Linked DNA regions of Homo sapiens. The protein of the gene in region 2 purifies or fractionates together with the protein of the main gene of each other region. This does not show direct contact. Each region holds a gene or a part of one and is shown on either strand. Other genes may lie near its edges. The genes, in order: RAPGEF4, RADX and GABBR2.

Region 1 (3,656 bases), on a different chromosome or scaffold from region 2:
GCTGTGTGATACGTTTCCCATCCCAGGACTAGGAACTCATCAACCAACCCCTGGGTCTCAGAGACTCCTGGGTCATCTGGGAGGAGGCTTTGAACAGTGAAGCCTACCTTCAACAGTTGATTCACCAATTGGGCCTCTGCAATCCACAGAATGGCTCTTCTTGGCTCTTTCTCTTTCCTATCTCAGTTTGTCATATTCCCATTTAAACATCTGTAAAACCCCGATTTTGTTTCTAAAAACTAGTCCCTGTATATCCTCCAAACTCATTTTTCTGGCATTTCAAGTTAGGGTTCAGGAAGACTTGATGCCCTCACTTAGGGGAGACTATTCAAAGGGCTGAAAGCTGGGATGGGCATCAAGGGATGCCAGGATCTCACCCCACACAGAGTATCCAGATCACCAAGTTATGCAAAAACATTGACTTACTGAATTTAGTCCATTTAAAAAAATAAGAGTGGATTATGTTTTTGGCAAGACCTCTGTCATCTGTTCTCTTTCTTTACTTAGCTTTCTTTTAGGTCAAAGACAGTAGGGCACAGGGTAATAAAAAATGTTTCTTTCATTCTTAATACTATTATTTATCCACCCCCCCATGCTTCTAGAGCAGTGTTTTCAATAGGGCCATCCTGCCAATCCAGGAGGCATTTGGTAATGTGTGCAGACATTTTTTTGTTGTCACAGCCGGGGTGGGGCATGGTAAGAGGTGCTTCCAGCATCTGGTGGGGAGAGGCCAGGGATGCTCCTAATTGTCCTGCAACAGAGAAGACGTCTCCACGACCAAGAACTGTTCTGCTCCAGATGTCACCAGTGCTGAGGCTGAGAGAGTGTGTGTGCTCCAGGTAATTCTCATTTGCTTCATCTCAGCTTGATCTTCCCCCTCAGTTTTGAACCCTTCCCTTTATTGTGTGCTCTGGCTTTCCTTTCTATTTTATTCCGTGGCTGTTCCACACGTGTCCCCTAGTTCCATGAGGCCAGGCAGCATTTCTCACACTGCTCTTGTGGTCACTGTGGTGCTCAATGGAGTTGCATGGGAGGCTTTTGGGAGGTTTTCTCGGCAAGTGCAGGTACATAAACTAGAATCAAAGGTGCTTAGGAATGAAATCTCCCATACAGAATTATATAATTATACTTCACCTTAAAAAACAAAGGCTTATAAATGATGAAAGGATAATTTCCTCTTTTCAGCAACATTCAGTGCTGAAAACAGAAGCTCATAGACTCACAGAACTCCCATCCCTAGTGAAACCAAAGGACTGGCCAGTTAGCTATCTCCTTTTGCTGCCTGCACCCTCTTCAGCAGCCTCCTACTTTTTTATTTAGACTGGGAAAGAGGGTTCAGAGAGTGTTTCCCACATGCTCTGTTCTTATTGTCTGGCTGATCTGTGGTACCCACACCTGGCCTCCTTGGACCCTTTGAGGCTTTATGGTTTTTTAAAATGTCCCCAACCAACTAATTTGGACTCTGTGGCAGGGGGATTAGAAGCTGGTAGCTGACTGGGGAAGGCAGACTCTTTGCAGGAGGACCCTAGGTCTCCAGCAATCCCAAGAGCCTTGGACTATAAGACGAGGGAGTTGCATTATGGCTTTGTGCTTAGATCTCTTGGCAGCACGAGCTCCGTCCTTTTACTAGCTGGAAGATGATATAGCTGCATGGCACGCAGGCCTCACCAATTCCCTCATTCCTATATTCAGGGGATGAGCTGCTGTGTGCTGCATCTGCCTGGAATTTTAAGAGAAACCCAAGACAGAAGGACTTGTGAGGACCTGCCCTACAAACAATGGAAACATTTAGGAGGGACGGAAAAAGAAAATCATTGCAAGAAGGACATGGGGAAGAAAATAATTTCAGAAAAGCATTTAGAGATGCAAACAGCTGCCTTTAAGCACCATTGCAAGTTGGGTCTCTAATACATACTCCTTGCCCTCTTTCTGTGTCCCACTTACACACAATTTTTTATTTTTAGCATGAGTCTATTTCTGTATGTATGTTCTATTAGAGATTAGTATTTCTTCAACTATATGCCACGTGTAAGAGGTCAAGCACATTTTGAGTACAAAGCTAATAATAAATGAAGATGTTTTCTAGCTTGAATACCCAACTCTCGACAAACCATTCATTATATTTGCTACAGAGACTCACAACACACCTGCCTCACTTTTGCCCCAAACTGAATATTAGCCAACTGTTGTTCCTCTCCGTGGAGAGAAGTCTGCCAGGTGGTGAGGCGACACTTAGTACTCAACTGCTGCAAACAGTTGGCTTCCTGGCTCTTCCTTCCAGAAGCAAAATGAGTACTTGGATAAAAATGGATCTTCTGTCCTCTTTCAATTAAAGATAAGATTTATGGCAAAAGCAACAAGCAGACATTTCAGAAAACAATACAATCTATGAGCAAACTTATGAAGTCATTCCCAGCAATGTGGGTCCTTCATGTTATACTTAGGAACTGGACTTATTTTTATTTACATTGCATATATCAAGAAGTAGACATCTCCTCATCTCCCCCACTCTCCATACACAAAAGGACAATATCTTTTAAAAATTCTCCCTCTGAGGCAACTGGAAAAAGGAGACAGGTCACCTCCCTCCAAGTGTCCCACCTTTCCCATTGTTATACTAGTGTGAGTGATATTTCTATTAAAAAGCTCACTGGTGAGCCTGTGTTTTTATTCCTAAGGCAAAAGTCACAGCTGGATCCTAGCTGAAGCTTACCTCCCACGTTAGTGCCAAGCGGCTCACAGCAACGTTACTTAGTCCCATGACGATGGCAAAAAAGGAATTCAGATTTTTATACTCCTTACAGCTGAAACACAGGAGATGCGTGTTTGAGTAAAATGTTACTTCTGTGTGAGATAAAAAAAATTAGAGTTCTATTTTCTGATAGTCATTAATATTTGTCAGGGCTCATTTATGAGAACAGGCAATGATAGATTTAATGTACTGTAAAAGTTCCACTTGGGTGACCATGTTCTGCTGTTTGATTTCTCACTGTGTTTTTAGAAAGTTGAAGACGTTAGCCATTGAGGTTTGGGATCTGAGAAGGAACTTAAAGACACCTACCTTAGGGGTTGTTATTATAATCCCAAACTTGCTAAAAGCCTTGTTGGACCGAGAGGGAAATATCTCATGGGGTAAGAAAAAAAGTGAAGTGCCCTTGGAGATTTCTAGACCTTTAGCCTGAAGGTGGATATCCTCCTCTGGCAGCTTGAGAGGGCACTAAGGGAGTCTCACAGCTGCAGCCACCATGGCTTCTACCTGCCATGCAAATGCTACTTGTTTGTTGAAAAATATCAACTTATAAGGTGTGATCTCTATAGGCTGGGCACTCAATCTCAAGGAATTTTAAAGCTGAGAAGTAACCTAAACAACTGACCAAGAAATAACCTTCTCTGTGTTTTACTGACATCAATGAAGCTGATCATTTTGAATCTGTACTTACGCCATTATTAGCTTTTATGAATATATGTTTGGGAATGAGACATGTGGAAAAAAACAGAAATTCTTATTAGAATGGTGATGTTTAACACAGGTACTTGGTTTAACCATTTTTTAGAAAGAGAAACCCCAAACTTCTTCATACCAGGTCCCTGAAAAGGGAAAGAATTCATTTTGCAATACGCATAAATCCTTCATCCTGAATCAATATGGTTATCGA
Region 2 (3,656 bases):
AATTGCTCAGGCTGGAATGCAGTGGTGTGATCATGGTTCACTGCAGCCTGGCTGCAGTGAGCTCAGCTGCCTGGGCTCAGGTGATCCTCCCACTTCAGCCTCTTGAGTAGCTGGAGCTATAGGCACATGCCACCAGGCCCAGCTAATTTTTGTCTTTTTGGAGAGACATGGGGGTTTTGCCATGTTGCCCAGGCTGGTCTCAAACTCCTCGGCACAAGCAAGCTGATGGTCTTGCCCTCCTGAAGTGCTCAGATTATAGGCATTAGCCACTGCACCTGGCCCATTTCTATAAATTAAATATATAAGTGCTTAGTAATGGGAAAAATATTCCATGACATTGAGGTTTTTTTTTTCACAAAATATCTTAAGGGAGGTGAGTTTAAATCCAGGTTTTCCAGGAAGTTATTAAATGGTTTGGTAAGATGGAGGGCATTCTAGGTGGGACAATGTGTTGGTTAATATAGGTGTTTACCTATGTTCCAGGCACATAGTAAGCCCTATATATATTTCAGCTGTTAATATTAGGGATCAAATGTAGTTTATGAGAGGTAATAGACTTAGCTGGCAAGGTTTAGCTGGCAAGAAGGAGTCACTTTAGGTATGATCAAGCTACTATTTTTAACCATTAAAATAGATCTTTGAAGTTACCATTACATGTTAAACAGGATTTCTTTCCTCTTTTTTATATTCTAGATACCAAAATAATTTCCCTTTCTCATCTTGAAATGACCTGGACTAACAGAAGAAATTTTCCTGCATTGCTTGTGAGGATCTTACATAAATCAAAACTGCGATACTATGGAAAACCTGATAAAAAGATGATTGAACCATATCAGGTACAAGTAATAAGATATCATATGTTAATTTAAAAGTTATAAATTATAGCTTACACACCTCACTCCATAGTATGATAACCTGTTCGTTTAAATAACATTTCATAAGTTCAATGTAATAATTTTTAAATGTACGTAAATGTATATTATAAAGTATTTTTCTGCATAATTTATTGTACAAAAAGAAATTATTTCTGTATTGGTGCCCTTTATTTCCCTGATCCAGGTGGTCTCCTTCCCACCTTTTTATTTTCCTTCAACCTTTTCTTCTCACCTATGCTTTCTGTGCCAATATATAAACATACTCTAGTCTCCCATTTAAAAAAAGAAAAGAAAAGAATCTCCTTTGGCCTTATGACTCTTCTATTCCCTATCTTTCTCTTCAGGTAAGCTTCTTGAAGAAGTAGTCTACACTAGATGTTTTTACTTTCTTGCCTCCCATTTCTCAACACAGTTAGCTTGGCTTTTTTCCTTAGCTTATCATTCACTAGTAACTCTAATTGTCAAATCTGTGTGATACTTCTCTATTGTCTTGACTCTCTGTGCCATATAATGCTCATGAGCTCTACTTTCTTGATATGTTTGTGTTCTATTTTTTTCTTACTTAATATTATATTGTACTTTCCCATGATATCAAGAACTATTTTAGATGTTTCATTAAACTTTTATTATGAAAGTTATACATGCTTATTGTAGGGAATTTGGAAAATGTAGAAAGCTGTTTGAAGATCTTACCACTCAGAGAGAGCCACTGTTAACATGGTGTGTTTTATTCCCTTTCTTGTGTGTGTAAATCACATATATACACATATACAAGCATATCATATATATATATACATACACATATCTATGATATTTAATCATATATATCACATATATGTGCATATGTAGATGTATTATATATTTCATGTGAGTGTGTATATCATATATCACATTACATTATTTTACAAAATGGGAACCATATTGTGCATACAATTTTGTGTCGTTTAACATTTTCTTAAATATTTTCTCATATCACTAAAAATTCTTCATCCATAATACTTTACAGTTATATATTTTTAGCACATTCTATCATAAATTATTCAGTCATTCCCCGATAGTTTTTTGCCTTCTCATTGTTGCAATACTTTCCTCCCTGATTTTTTAACTCCGCTTATTTGTTGCCTTCCTACCTCTTTGTGCCTCCATCATTTCGCCCTTGCTTGCCTCTCCAGTCTCATCTCTTCCTGAGCTCTCTATGCTTCATACTAACCAAATTGCCCTACCTGGAATGTTCTAACAGTAACCAATTGTTTTCTACCTTTCATACCTCTGCTCACGTTGTTTCTTCTGCCTAGAATCCTCTTCCTCTCACTTCTCATCAGATTGGCAAAGCCATCTTTAAGATTCAGTTCAGTGCTTACCTCTGATTTAAGTCTTTCCATGTATACCCATATGCCTAGTCACTGGGAGAATCAACTACATGCTACTCAGGACCCCACTATATGCCCTTACATAGGTCTATCAGAGCATGCATAACCCAGTTACACATACCTGTTAATAGATTTGCTAATCTTACTCTACTGTGCGCTCCCTGACTGTAGGGAAGAAGTATCTAACAGTGCTTAAGAGTGCATGCCCTGTGGTCATATGAACTGAATTCAAGTTTCAGCTGTTTACCATTTCTTACCTTTATGATGTAGGGAAAATTATTTATCCTTTTAAAGCCTCAGTTTACTCATCTGTAAAATATGGATACTAATTGTACTTACCTTACAGGATTGATGTGAGGATTGAATTAGTAAAGGATTTACCTATGTTCCAGGCACATAGCAAGTCCTATATATATTTTAGCTATTATTATTAGGTACAATGTTTGATTCATCTCTGCATTCCAGGGCCTAACATAATCTCTGGAATATGGATTCAGTAAATGTTTAATGAATAAAGGAATGAATTACCCAAAATGTATATTCATCATTTAGAGAAAGGGTCTGAGAATATAACATCATTATTTAAGAAGAAATTAAGAATTAGAAAACACTTTACGGACTGCCTTTTAGGCCCAACTGAAGTTGTCTGTCACTGTATTTTAATACTGAGAAAAACTCCAAATACTTTCCACCTCAATACATTTCTCTATCTCTAATCTTTAGATGATCAATATTAGCAAAATTGACAACTGAATCATTATTAATAAATAATTAAAATTTAGATGTTATTTTCCATCACTCTAAATGATCACAAATAATATGCTATATATTATCTGTACAGATAAAAGTGACAAATATGTATGTGCTTTTACTCATTTTCTTTCTAGACCTTTTTGGAAGTTGCTGACAGTTCAGGCACAGTGTCAGTGATTATGTGGAATGCCCTGTGTCCTGAGTGGTATAAAAGTTTGCGGGTTGGTTTAGTTCTTCTGCTTCAAGACTATTCTGTTAAAAAGAGTTATCCATTCAGAATACAGCCTGTCCCCGTGGATCCACAGATCAAACTAATTTCTACAATGGGTTAAGTATTCCATGAATTTGTTGTCTTATCGCTGTTTTGTTTATATAAATTTGCAATGTACCATATTAGGAAAAAAGACCACAAAAATTACTGAAGCTGTTAGAACCTATGAAACCTTTAAATTTATTTGTCCATAAAATTTTCAAGCAATCACATAACCTAATAAATATACCTATTTATTATTTTATTTATTAAGAAAAATTATCTGAGACATTTATTGTTGATTGAAGAATGAGCTCCACTTGGATTGTACTTATTTTGTTTTATTTTATTTTTGGTCATATAATATTAAGTTAATAACGAATATATTTTGCACTTACTAGTAGGTGC
Region 3 (3,656 bases), on a different chromosome or scaffold from region 2:
AATACTCATGATAAACCAAGCATTTGGTTTCCACAAAGTCTTAATACCCCTTGTGGAGCCATCATTTTGCAGGAACAGAAGAAGGAGTAAGAAGGAGACAACTTTCTCTTGTCTATTGTCAATTTTCTGGAGTTGTTTCTATACAATAGGCCCCAAACCCAGTAGTGATCATATCACCTGTGAACCAAACCTCAGTCTTCTTTCTCAGTGTCCATAGAAGGGCTTGTTTCCAGCCAGGATCTCACAGATGCCCCAGCACTGTTCTTGCATTTGGTAGCCAGAAGGCACCTGAGCCAGGTGTTTGGGGAAGGATGATGGACAGAGGTGGAAGAAGCTTCCAGATGGTGAGCTTTCACCATCTGGAAGCAAGAAATGATGTTACCTCCATCTCCTTGTGTCTGCTTTAGCCCAGACTTTTGGCCCTTGATGCCACTTTTCTTATAAATGTTAGTTTACATGGAATTGCTTAAGGCTTCACATTAACCACATCAGCAGGTTCCTTGATGTTTTCAAACCTGGAAACTTTCCTAAATTTCTTACATGGTTCAAACTCTTTTAATCCACTGAATGTTTCTCGCTCTCTATTTTTTTTTTTTTTTTTTTTTTTTTTTGTGAGATGGAGTCTTGCTCTGTCACCCAGGCTGGAGTGCAGTGGCATAATCTTGGCTCACTGCAGCCTCCATCTCCTGGGTTCAAGCGATTTTCCTGCCTCAGTCTCCCGAGTATCTGGGACTACAGGTGTGCACCAGCACACCCAGCTATTTTCGTATTTTCGGTAGAGACGGGGTTTCCCCATGTTGGCCAGGCTGGTCTCGAGCTCCTGACCTCAAGTGATCCACCCGCCTTGGCCTCCCAAAGTGCTGGGATTACAGGCATGAGCCACCACGCTCAGCCAAAGCCACTGAATATTTCTAAACACATTTGAACTTGCTAGCAGTGTTTTAAACCCAGATGTTCAGGGGAGTTCTCACTCCCTGCTACCACATCTGCCCCTTTCCTGCTTGTCTCCTGGGAAGAGAGGCATAACTGGGACCCTGGTGGGGCTCCCAGATTCCCAGGCTTGGCTACTTTGTAACATCCGGCTGATTCCACATACCCCTACTGGAGAGAAAAGCCCTGAAGTTTCACAATTCCACAGCAGAAACCTGACCTAAAATAGCAGCTAAGAAAGAGGGATTCGCAGGAAGCTGGGGGAGTCCCTGAATCCCTCATCCCAAACCAGTCTATGTCTGCTAAAACTAAAACAGGACTGAAAGATGGATTTGCTCTGAAACCCTCAGGGTTCCCCCGAGTTCCTTGTGCTCTTGAAGAATGAGCAGCGCACCTCTGCAGTCACATAGAGAAATGGAATCCCACAGTTCCAGGCCAGTTCTGGCACAGCAGGGAGAGGAAGGTAGCTTCTGCCTCCCACAGTTACTCAGAGTCTTGTGGAAACAGAAAGCCAGATAGAGCTTTTAAAACACAATGACATTGAAGCAGAAATTCTGCAGCCAAAACACCTATGTGTCACCATGGAACCAACAGGCAAGGTGTCCATCCTGTTGAGGAGGGATCATTTATTGTGTATGTTTAGGAGCAGAGATCTTGAGGCCAAAGCCAAGTTCTTCATCCCCGAAGGCACCCACGGGTACCCACTCACATCACCCAGCCCTGTGCTTCCAGGCCGTTGTTGCCTTGGGGGATAAATGGTGATGGTTTTTCAATAGTGTAATTAGACCAAATCAAATTCTAGTCTTCTAATGGCTATTAAATGCATCACAAATCCTTTATTGATTCTATTTAGAGAAAGAAATACAGTCCTAGCTCAGGCTCCCTGTTGAGCAGACTGGCCAACCACCGGATCTGGCTCACCCGGTAGATAGATGTGCCTTGTGTAGAGTTTGTGCGCAGGGCCTGGCTGGATGTCAGGGACACTAAGGCAAAGGTGTTCTCGGGGAATGACTTGCATTGGGTCCCACTGATGTCTTCTCTTGATCCTCTAGGATCCGAACCACCAAAAGACAAGACCATCATCCTGGAGCAGCTGCGGAAGATCTCCCTACCTCTCTACAGCATCCTCTCTGCCCTCACCATCCTCGGGATGATCATGGCCAGTGCTTTTCTCTTCTTCAACATCAAGAACCGGAATCAGAAGTAAGCCACCCTGGTCCTCCTCTGTGATATCACTTTCTAAATTGACAAGCCTATGGACACAGTATAGGAGTGCCACATGACAGATTCCCCAGGGACACAGAAGTCTGCAGGGCAGAGTTTCCCAAAGTGTTCCTCCGTTGCTAGGATGTTGTAGGTGTTACATGCATGTGAGTACGTGTGTGTGCGTGCACGCACACACACACACACACACACACACACACACACACACACACAGAGGCCAGGCTGCTGGTTGCACAGGAGTTTAGTCAAATAAGTTTGAGGAAGTTAAATAAAATCGAAGAGTCCAAGTCCACGGGCCTTCTCAGAGCTTTGGATATACTCCTGTACTTTGTGGAGGTCCAGGAGGAGAGATATAGAAGACAGAATACCCCAAACTTCTTTGCCCCTATCCCCTAGCATCGCTGGGAATCACCACTGAAGGGGGTCACAAAGTCCAGTGAAATGGACTCCCATTGGTACAGTTCATTACGGCCAGGAAGCCCTCCCTTCCATCATCCCGTATGACCCTCCGGATAACTCCTCATTTCACAGAGAAAAGCCCTGAAGTTCAGCGACAGAGTGCTGCTGTCCACTCGTGGCAGACTGTCTTCTTGGTTTCTTGTCTTAATTTCTTTTCCCCACCACGTGCCCTTAATTCTCCAGAGGAGAGAGGCTGACTGAGTTATTCTGGTCAGTCATGGGTAGAACAGGCCGCCACTCCAGGCGGTGGTTTTTACCAAGTGCATTTTGCTTCTTTGGTGTCCATAGCAAATCCCTGAACCCAGCCCCAAGCCTTTTTGTGGAATAAGCAGGGGTGCAGAGCATGGGCCGTCATGGGGACAGCCACAGTGACCACCTACATGGTGCCATGGCTCTGCCATGGTGCCCAGAAGCCACATTGCATGAACTCGTGGGCTGTCGGGAACAAGTCTGATTCTGAAGAAAACAGTTTTTTTGGTTTTTGAGATTTTTAAATTTCTCCCTGCTTGCAAAGAAGGAATTTGGAGGCTCTAGACTTTTGTGTGTGTGCTTGGTTTTTTAATTAATTAATTAATTATTTTAATTAATTTATTTTATTTTATTTTACTTTTTTAAGAGACAGTCTCACTATGCTGCCTAGGCTTTTCTCAAACTCCTGGACTCAAGCGATCCTCCTGCCTCAGCCTCCCAAGTTGCTGGAATTAGAGGCATGAGCCACTGTGTCCGGGGTTATTTTGTTGTTTGTTTGGCTTTTTTTGATAGCAGTTGCTTAGGTCAAACCTATTTCCTGAAAAACAGAAAAGAGTTTTCTTCTCCTGTTATTTTATTTTACTTACAACAAATAGCACATATACTGCCACAAAAAAAAGTGAGGCAACTTTTGTCCACTCCATACAAACCTTAAATGCTCAACATACCTCTTAGCACTTGGCACAGGCCTGGGCACATAATCAGCTCTCAAAGTTAGATTGACAGCCCAGATGCCTCGAGAAGTCCCATCAGGACAGCAAGTTGCCCCATCATAAGACTAAACTCATTGAATT

The links.
Region 1: the proteins of RADX (region 2) and RAPGEF4 purify together in Homo sapiens (affinity purification with mass spectrometry; one large-scale study listed by BioGRID and IntAct). This does not show direct contact.
Region 3: the proteins of RADX (region 2) and GABBR2 purify together in Homo sapiens (affinity purification with mass spectrometry; one large-scale study listed by BioGRID and IntAct). This does not show direct contact.

The regions. Positions count from the first base shown.
Region 1 is NC_000002.12:173,029,312-173,032,967, reverse strand, and holds part of RAPGEF4 (rap guanine nucleotide exchange factor 4), read right to left. Parts: intron 2,805-3,656; coding exon 2,714-2,804; intron 1-2,713.
Region 2 is NC_000023.11:106,621,958-106,625,613, forward strand, and holds part of RADX (RPA-related protein RADX), read left to right. Parts: intron 1-693; coding exon 694-836; intron 837-3,132; coding exon 3,133-3,325; intron 3,326-3,656.
Region 3 is NC_000009.12:98,387,331-98,390,986, reverse strand, and holds part of GABBR2 (gamma-aminobutyric acid type B receptor subunit 2 precursor), read left to right. Parts: intron 1-1,982; coding exon 1,983-2,133; intron 2,134-3,656. UniProt on the Homo sapiens protein: Component of a heterodimeric G-protein coupled receptor for GABA, formed by GABBR1 and GABBR2. Within the heterodimeric GABA receptor, only GABBR1 seems to bind agonists, while GABBR2 mediates coupling to G proteins.